Homo sapiens: one gene and its partner. The protein of the gene in region 2 interacts with the protein of the main gene of each other region in a pairwise test. Each region holds a gene or a part of one and is shown on either strand. Other genes may lie near its edges.

Region 1 (3,824 bases), on a different chromosome or scaffold from region 2:
AATAAAGTAACTGAAAACAAAGCCTGGATGTGTCAAAATGCCACAGGCACTTTTAAAACCCGTAACAGCCCACATAAACAACTCAAATACAGGGCAATTAAAGATTTGCAAATACTCAATAAGCTTTTTTTTCCATATGCACCCATAATGTAAAAACATTATTTTCCTATCATTTTCCATTTTCTTGCTTTTCTTCTGACTCTAAAATTAGCTAAATTGCCCCATCTCCAAGTTACCTCAGACAGTTGTTTCCAACAACCTTCTGTAAAAAAAAGTTTAGTAAAGAGGGAAAGAAGCAAATATATTTCTATTTACCCATATAAGATTTAATGTAATATGTGAAGTACAGTATGTAAAATACCAAAATATTTTTGAATGGCATATCAAAACTATAAACTCTTCAATAAAATATTGATACCATATGATAAAAATGTTATTCTTCTGGAGTATGGTTTATAAACAGAACAGAATACTCTTTTAAACCATGGCAAATATCCATTTATAGGTAAAAGAAAACAAAAAAAGTACACTTCACTTTGAAAATTTAAATGCAAATTTTTAAAATATCATGGAAGATACATAAGAGAGGTGAGAGGGCACAGCCTAAAAGTGATTGATTGTTAATACTCTATTTGCTGTTTCTAGTGGGACAAAACAAAGCACTGTTTTTTAGTAAAATATAACATGACGATACATCAAACATAATTGTAGTCACCATTTATGGATTCCCTATTTGGGGCCTGGCTTTGTATTATGTACTTTCATTTATCCTCACCGAATCCTATCAAGTGGGATTATTTTCCTTGTTTCAAAGATGGAGATACTGAGGTTTATGGAGGTCATAGCACTTCTAAGCCAGTATTCCCATTCAGGTCTGTACACTCTATAATATTGTCTTGAAGAAAATCTTCTATTACGTGGTAAACACTCTAGCATGCTCTTCCAAGATAATTACAGTCATCTCTCAGTATCTGAGAGAGATTGGTTCCAGGACTCCAAGGATACCAAAATCCAGGGATATTCAAGTCCCCTATACAAAATGGTACAGTATTTGCACATATACGCAACCTCCCATATATTTTAAATTATCTCTAGATTACTTATAATACCTAATACAATGTAAACCAATGTAAACAGTTGTTACACTGTACTGTTTTTTAAATCTGCATTATTTTTTCATTACTATATTGTTATTTCTTATTTATTTTTTTAAATATTTTCACTCCATGGTTGATTGAATCCAAAAATGCAGAACCTGCAAATATGGGGGGCCAACTATACTTAAGATGGGAATAAATTTATCTTTTCTTTGCTTGAGGTTTCCTTAATCAGCTATTTCATCGTTTACTTCTGTAAAATCCATAACCATATTTAAATTTATTCCTTAGCATATCTACACTTATATCTATATATGTAGATATAAATTTATATAGATATAGATTTAAATTTAGATATATAGATATAATTTAGATATACTAAGGAATAAGAAAAGCACCATTATATATATAACTGAAAACTCAAAGTTGGAAAATCCAATCTTTCTCATGAGTGATTATTTCTGACTATAAATCATCATATAGATCCCTTGGGTATACCTACAGAACCCATGAGGGTTACTGAATTCCAATAACAAGCATTCTCAAATAAAAACCACTTCTAAATAGCCATTTAATAAGGATAATTAACATCTATTAGGAAAGCCATTAATACTGAAGCTGGCGTTTTTTAAAGAATAGCACATGGGCTGCTGTTGGTCCTTTCCAGGTAGCCCATGAACGAATCCCTAGAAACATTATCACCTAAATTTCTGGCTTGAACTAACACCCACTGGCAATTCACTCTCGCCATGTCTCATCACAAGCCATGTTGTTTTCTAAGTTTTGGTGAATTTCTGGCTCACATAAGTGGAAGTAGACCAGGATAGAGAATAAGAGTCTTTTATCTTCTTAAGATAAAAAAGTTCAGTTCCAAAAATATATGCAACATTGCCTGGCTCTATAATTTAATTATACAAATAAAAATGTTTTTCAAATAAAATAAAATGACTTGAAAATATTCTAGCATTTAAAAGAAATATTTGATACCTTCAAGTACAAGATTTTCCCAAATAGTAGAACTTCCCCCATATTAAGCTTACCTTGAAGATGGCATTATATTTGAAGCCCTGAATTTTGCTGTAAATGGATTGGTTGACTCATAATCAAAATAGTCCTGGCGATTTTCACTAAATGCATTAGGTGATTTCAAGTCACAAGGGCTATCAGATCCCCCATTGTTAAGTTTATCAGATCTTCTGCTATCTTTTTTTCCAGTCACTCTTTCAAACAGGCTAACTTTCTCCCTTTTCTCTCTTTTATTTTCTTTTCTTATTTCAATTGGTTTTGAAAATAAATTCATGCTGCTGTCCCATGTTTCGCTGCTTTCTTCAAATGGATTTTTCTTCCTTGGCAGTGTTGCAAATTTTTGGGGTAATGAAGCAGTCACATTTGTAAATGGGTCATTTTGTCTTCCGAAACACAATTCACCTTCATCCACAATGCTGTCAGGTTGGTTCATTTTAGAAGTATCAAAGCTTAATGTTCTTCTGTGTGGAGATTTGAGACTTCCTACAAACAATTTTGTAGTTAGTACATAATCAGTGACACATTACATCACACTATTTGACACAGTCTGTGTGCATTCTGCTGCTTTTAGAATGAGAGCAATTAGCCACTTAAATGTATTAACCTTCAAAAAATCAAGGAAACAATCTTAAAATGCTAAGGTGTAGCAGTCTGAAGCATCGAGGCTGATAACAACTAGCATATTGCTAGACCATTAGTAATGTATTCAGCTCACAATCATATAAACTATGATGTCAAAACTAGAGGTTCTGGTTGGCATGATAATGTTAAAAATTCTCAGAGACTTTTTCATTAGCATTAAATTTACTTTCTTACTTCTGAACATAAAAGTTTTCTTCTAAGGACTTTATGATGAAATGGAACATTCATTTATGCTCAGGGTTTTGAGATAGCAGAAACAGCAGTAAAACAGGCAGCCAAGCCATAAAAGGAAACTGGCACTCATTTTATTATCATCTAATAATATAAATACAAATGCAGACAAGCTCTGCCTTCAAGGAACTTACCAATTTGAGGTATAGTAGGTACTCAATATTTGATGAATGACAAAATTTGGAAAATACTACAAAGCAACTGCTATTTTGATTTACTAAATTTAGAAATTAAACTTTAAAAACTAAAAGGGTAGTTCAGACCAATGAGTACACAAGAATGTGACACTTACCACTTTCTGGAACTGTTCCAAAGGAATCTAACTGGTGTCCGAGAAGATGTGTTTGACCTATGGTGCCAGCCTTCAGTTTCTCAGAAGACATATGGGACCCAGATAAATCAGACATTGAATGCGCTGACGAGAGTCGCTGAGGACCCAAGAGAAAAGGCTTTTTTGGTTTGGATTTCATCTGTATTTCACCACTTGAAAATTCACTATTGGCATCGGGCATGTGAGTACTTGGAATGATTGCAGAAGACGTATCAGAAAATGTTCCATCATTTTTTCTACCCTTCATCTTATCTTTTAACTTTGCAAAAGGAGATCTGGTTTTGTCCTTCATTGATAAGTCAAACATACTTGCGGTCATATTGTTCCTCATAAACTGAATATTGACCTTTATCTCACCCCTGTTTTTGATTCGTTTTCCTTGTTTGGATTCTAATCTAAACCACCTTAAAGAGAAGAAAAAAAAATTGGCTGTAACACATAATAGAGAGAGGATACTGAGTTCTGTTACATACAAATAGCCTTTTAGGTAAAGTAAC
Region 2 (3,824 bases):
CCCAGGCCCAGACATGGCCCCTGTTGGGCCAGTGATGGCCCAGCTAGGAGTGTAGATCCAGGGCCACCTCCTTGCCTGCAGATTCTGGGCGGGGTTCTCCCTGGGGGGCTCCAAGAGTGGCCTCCTCCATACTCAGGCTGCTCAGCCAGCTCTCGGGACACTGTCCCTTGTCTTAGAGACCCCAGCCCTCGCTACCTGCATCCTCTTCAGATTGGGGAAGTCCCCAGGTGAGATCTGGTGCTCCCGCTCGATCCGGCCATAGATCTCGGCCAGGTTGTTGACCAGCTCCTTCTTCTTGTTGTCCTTCCCGAACACCGAGGGCATCTCCTTCTTCAGAGAGCTGATGATGTAGGCGTGGACCTGACAAACAGGGCCAGAGAGAAGCCTTCACATCAAGACCCTGGACGGTCCCTTCCTTCTAGGATGGCTCTTGCATCATTCCTTCCCCTACATCCCTCCCGCCTCCTCCTGCTCCTACTTTTGAAATAATTTCTACCTCTACCCTCATGGCTCCATGTTGCTTGCAGGGCTGGGCTGTTTTTCTATGTTATGTGGGCAAGGTGAGGTTGTGGGGAGCTATGGTCAAGGCAGGGTGAGGTGGTCATGTTGCTGCTGCTGAAGGCAATACCAGCAGCTGACAGTTGCTGAGCATCTCTGAAGGTGCCAGACACTGTGATGAGGGCTTTGAGACTCTTTATTTCACTTTATCCTCCAACAACCCCTTCATTTTACAGATGCAAACAGAGGCACAGAGAGACTAAAGGCCTTGCCAAGGCTGGGAATCCCACAGACAGTAAACAATGGAGTCAGTTCCAATCTGGCCATCTGACCTGAGAGCTTGTAACCATGGCTCCCGCACTGTCCTGCCCCTTGGTGTCACACACATGATGCACTGGCTGTTGGAGGCAGCAACCCTCAGCTCGTGCAGCTGACCCCAAACTCTGGGCCCCTGCCCAAGCTGCCCACCTCCCAGGGGGCTGCCTCACCTTGGCCAGCCTGGCCCTTTTGATGAGGTCGTTGAGCTTGCGCAGGGCAGCATTTCGGGGCAGACTCTGGATGTCCCTGAATAGGTCCTGTTCCTCAGCCTCAAAGAGCTTCCGGTTGTCAGGGATGAGGAGGGGGTGGGACCAGAAGGAGCCGATGTAGACCCGGATCACCTCTGGGGTGTTCACGATCTTCCCCAAGGACCACATGAGGGCCCCGTACACCCGCATCAGCTGCTGCGTCTCGATCTGGTCAGCTTTGTTCAGCACCACTCGCATCTTGTCCTCGTGGTTCTTGAGGGCTTTGATGACTTCTGAGAACTCATCAGAGATGTCCAGTTTGTGGGCATCGAAGAGCAGAATGATGCGGTCAACCCGCTCGGCAAACCACTCAAGGACAGCTGCAAAGTCATACCCTGCCGGCAGAGGGACAATCAGGGGCTGGGGCCTTTGGGGTATAGGGTAGGGGTTTGGAGAAGCAGTCGGGTGTGGTAGAAATAACACAGTCTTGGGAGTCAGATCTAAGTTTAAATCCTGGCTCCTCCACATTTTAACTGTTTGGACTCCAGCAAATTACTCAATGTCTCATAGAATTTTTTTCGTCTAAAAATACTGTTAAATACTAAAATAATATGAATACCTAGTTAATAGAACTATGAAGATTAAATACTCTTAGAATCCGGCACTTAGTAGGTGCTCAGTAAATGCTAGTTACTTTTTTTTTTGAGACGGAGTCTTGCTCTCTCACCCAGGCTGGAGTGTAGTGGCACTGCCTCTGCTCACTGCAACCTCTGCCTCCTGGGGTCAAGTGATTTTCCTGCCTCAGCCTCCCGAGTAGCTGGGATTACAGGCATGCGCCACCATGCCCGTCTAATTTTTGTGTTTTTAGTAGAGACAGGTTTAACCATGTTAGCCAGGCTGAGTCTTGAACTCCTGACCTCAGGTGATGCGCCTGCCTTGGCCTCCCAAAGTGCTGGGATTATAGGTGTGAGCCACCGCCCCCAGCCAGCCACTGCGCCTGGCCTAGTAACTCTTATTAACGTCATTATTTCCATACCAGCTCCCCTATCCGTGCTTACTGTATTTAGCAGCCCGCTGGAAAAGAAAGTCTGGACACCTAATCTGACACAAAGACCCAGAAATTCTTTCTAAGGTCTGAAAACAATGAAACACTAAAAAGTAGATACTGATGATGGTTCAGACCATGCCTGTCACTGGTCTGGAAGAAATCTGCAATTCTTGTTATAAAAACATCTTGTTCTCACTCAGGCTCTTTCCTTTGTAATCAGCTGCAGCACAAAATTCCCAACTCTTGAAACCACAAGGGGTTTCTTCCTTAGGATGTGACTGGAACTCTGGCCACCCGCATCTTGGTTATCTAGCACTAAGCTGCTTTAGGTCAGACTGGTTACAGGAGCCCCAGAGAAGTTGTTCTGCTCAATCCCAAGTAGCTGTGGATCCAGTAGGAGCTGAAGTAGGAGGGTGGACCAATAGTCTATACATTCACTGACACCCAGAGCCCCAGTAGGTCTTACCTCTGTGTCTCAGGCTCCTCTTACATAAAATAGGAAGACAAGAGATAAGGAAGTGGGGCTCAGAGAAGTCAAGTGATTTGTCGAAGGGCACACAGCCCATGAGCAGCAGCAGTCGCATGAAGATGGAGGTGTTAGGCTTTCCCATTCTGAGTCTGAGCAGGGTTCTCAGCCTCTCCTCCTGCCACTCCCCCGTGGCATACCTCTGGCACCAAGGTAGGAGCCCTTTCTTGGGTACTAAAGTGACCAACCATCCTGGCTCCCCATAGCACAAGGGTTCCAAGGTGACACACACTGGGGACCCAAAGCTCATTGCCACCATCGAATGGGAAACCAAATCATTAGGAAAAAGCCTGCCCTGCCTCACAGAGGGAGGCTAGAGACCAGGCAAGATCATCAGGCAACTGCCTTGTGAGTGAGTCAGACTTAAGAAGCTCTGACTGTCTTTAACAGGGGTCCTGACTTAGCCTCCATCAGAATCCCCCCAGGGCTTCTTAAAACCCAGATGGTTGGACTCTATCCCCAAAGTTTCTGATTCAGTAGGTCTGGCGCAGAGCATTTCTAACAAGCTCCCAGGAGATTCTGATGCTGTTGGTCCAAGGGCCACACTTTGAATACCACTGGCCCATAAAAATAACAATAGCATTCAAAAGGTGTTCAGCACTGACCTAAGTACTTTATAATCATTCATTCCTTTAATCCTCACGATGACTCTGTGTAGGGTCATTAGACACTAATATCAGCCCCACTTCTCTGAGGAGTAACCAGAGATACAAACAGATAAAGGAACTTGTCTAAGGTCACCCAGCTGGTAAGCAATGGGCTGGGACTCAAGTCCAGGAAGGTAGCCCTGGAGTCAGTGCTATGAACCACTGCACCGAGTTGGCTTTCACTTTCAAAGGCTGTCATTTCAGACTAAGTAGCAGGCATCGATGGGGTGGGGGATGAGGATGAATGGAGCCAACGGAGCTAGGTTTAAAAAGCCTTTCCCCCACCCTGTGGCATCTAGTGAACACCCAGTGGGGTACATATTTAGGACGTGTGGAGGCACTGCCACAGGGGGTAGGGGGATGGGATCAGACGGTCGGGAAAACTTGCTGCCCTAAAGCTTCCTGGAGGACCCCTGTAATGTTTCCCTGGTGGCTGTAAGAGAATTCTAACAAACAAAGGAAGGTCAAACCCTCCTTTGGTTACCCGGATGCCAGTACTACTCCATTTTCAGCTCCTCTGTCTTTGGTAAATGAAGTGCTTCCAAGCATTCCCATTGCCATGTGATTTTCTCCAAGATCTGTCAGCTGCTCAATGAATA

The links.
Region 1: the proteins of EHD3 (region 2) and RAB11FIP2 interact in a two-hybrid assay, tested with the Homo sapiens proteins (one study listed by BioGRID).

Annotation. Positions count from the first base shown.
Region 1 is NC_000010.11:118,036,835-118,040,658, forward strand, and holds part of RAB11FIP2 (rab11 family-interacting protein 2), read right to left. Parts: intron 3,732-3,824; coding exon 3,289-3,731; intron 2,607-3,288; coding exon 2,138-2,606; intron 1-2,137. UniProt on the Homo sapiens protein: A Rab11 effector binding preferentially phosphatidylinositol 3,4,5-trisphosphate (PtdInsP3) and phosphatidic acid (PA) and acting in the regulation of the transport of vesicles from the endosomal recycling compartment (ERC) to the plasma membrane.
Region 2 is NC_000002.12:31,258,085-31,261,908, reverse strand, and holds part of EHD3 (EH domain-containing protein 3), read right to left. Parts: intron 1,400-3,824; coding exon 987-1,399; intron 361-986; coding exon 196-360; intron 1-195. UniProt on the Homo sapiens protein: ATP- and membrane-binding protein that controls membrane reorganization/tubulation upon ATP hydrolysis. In vitro causes tubulation of endocytic membranes. Binding to phosphatidic acid induces its membrane tubulation activity.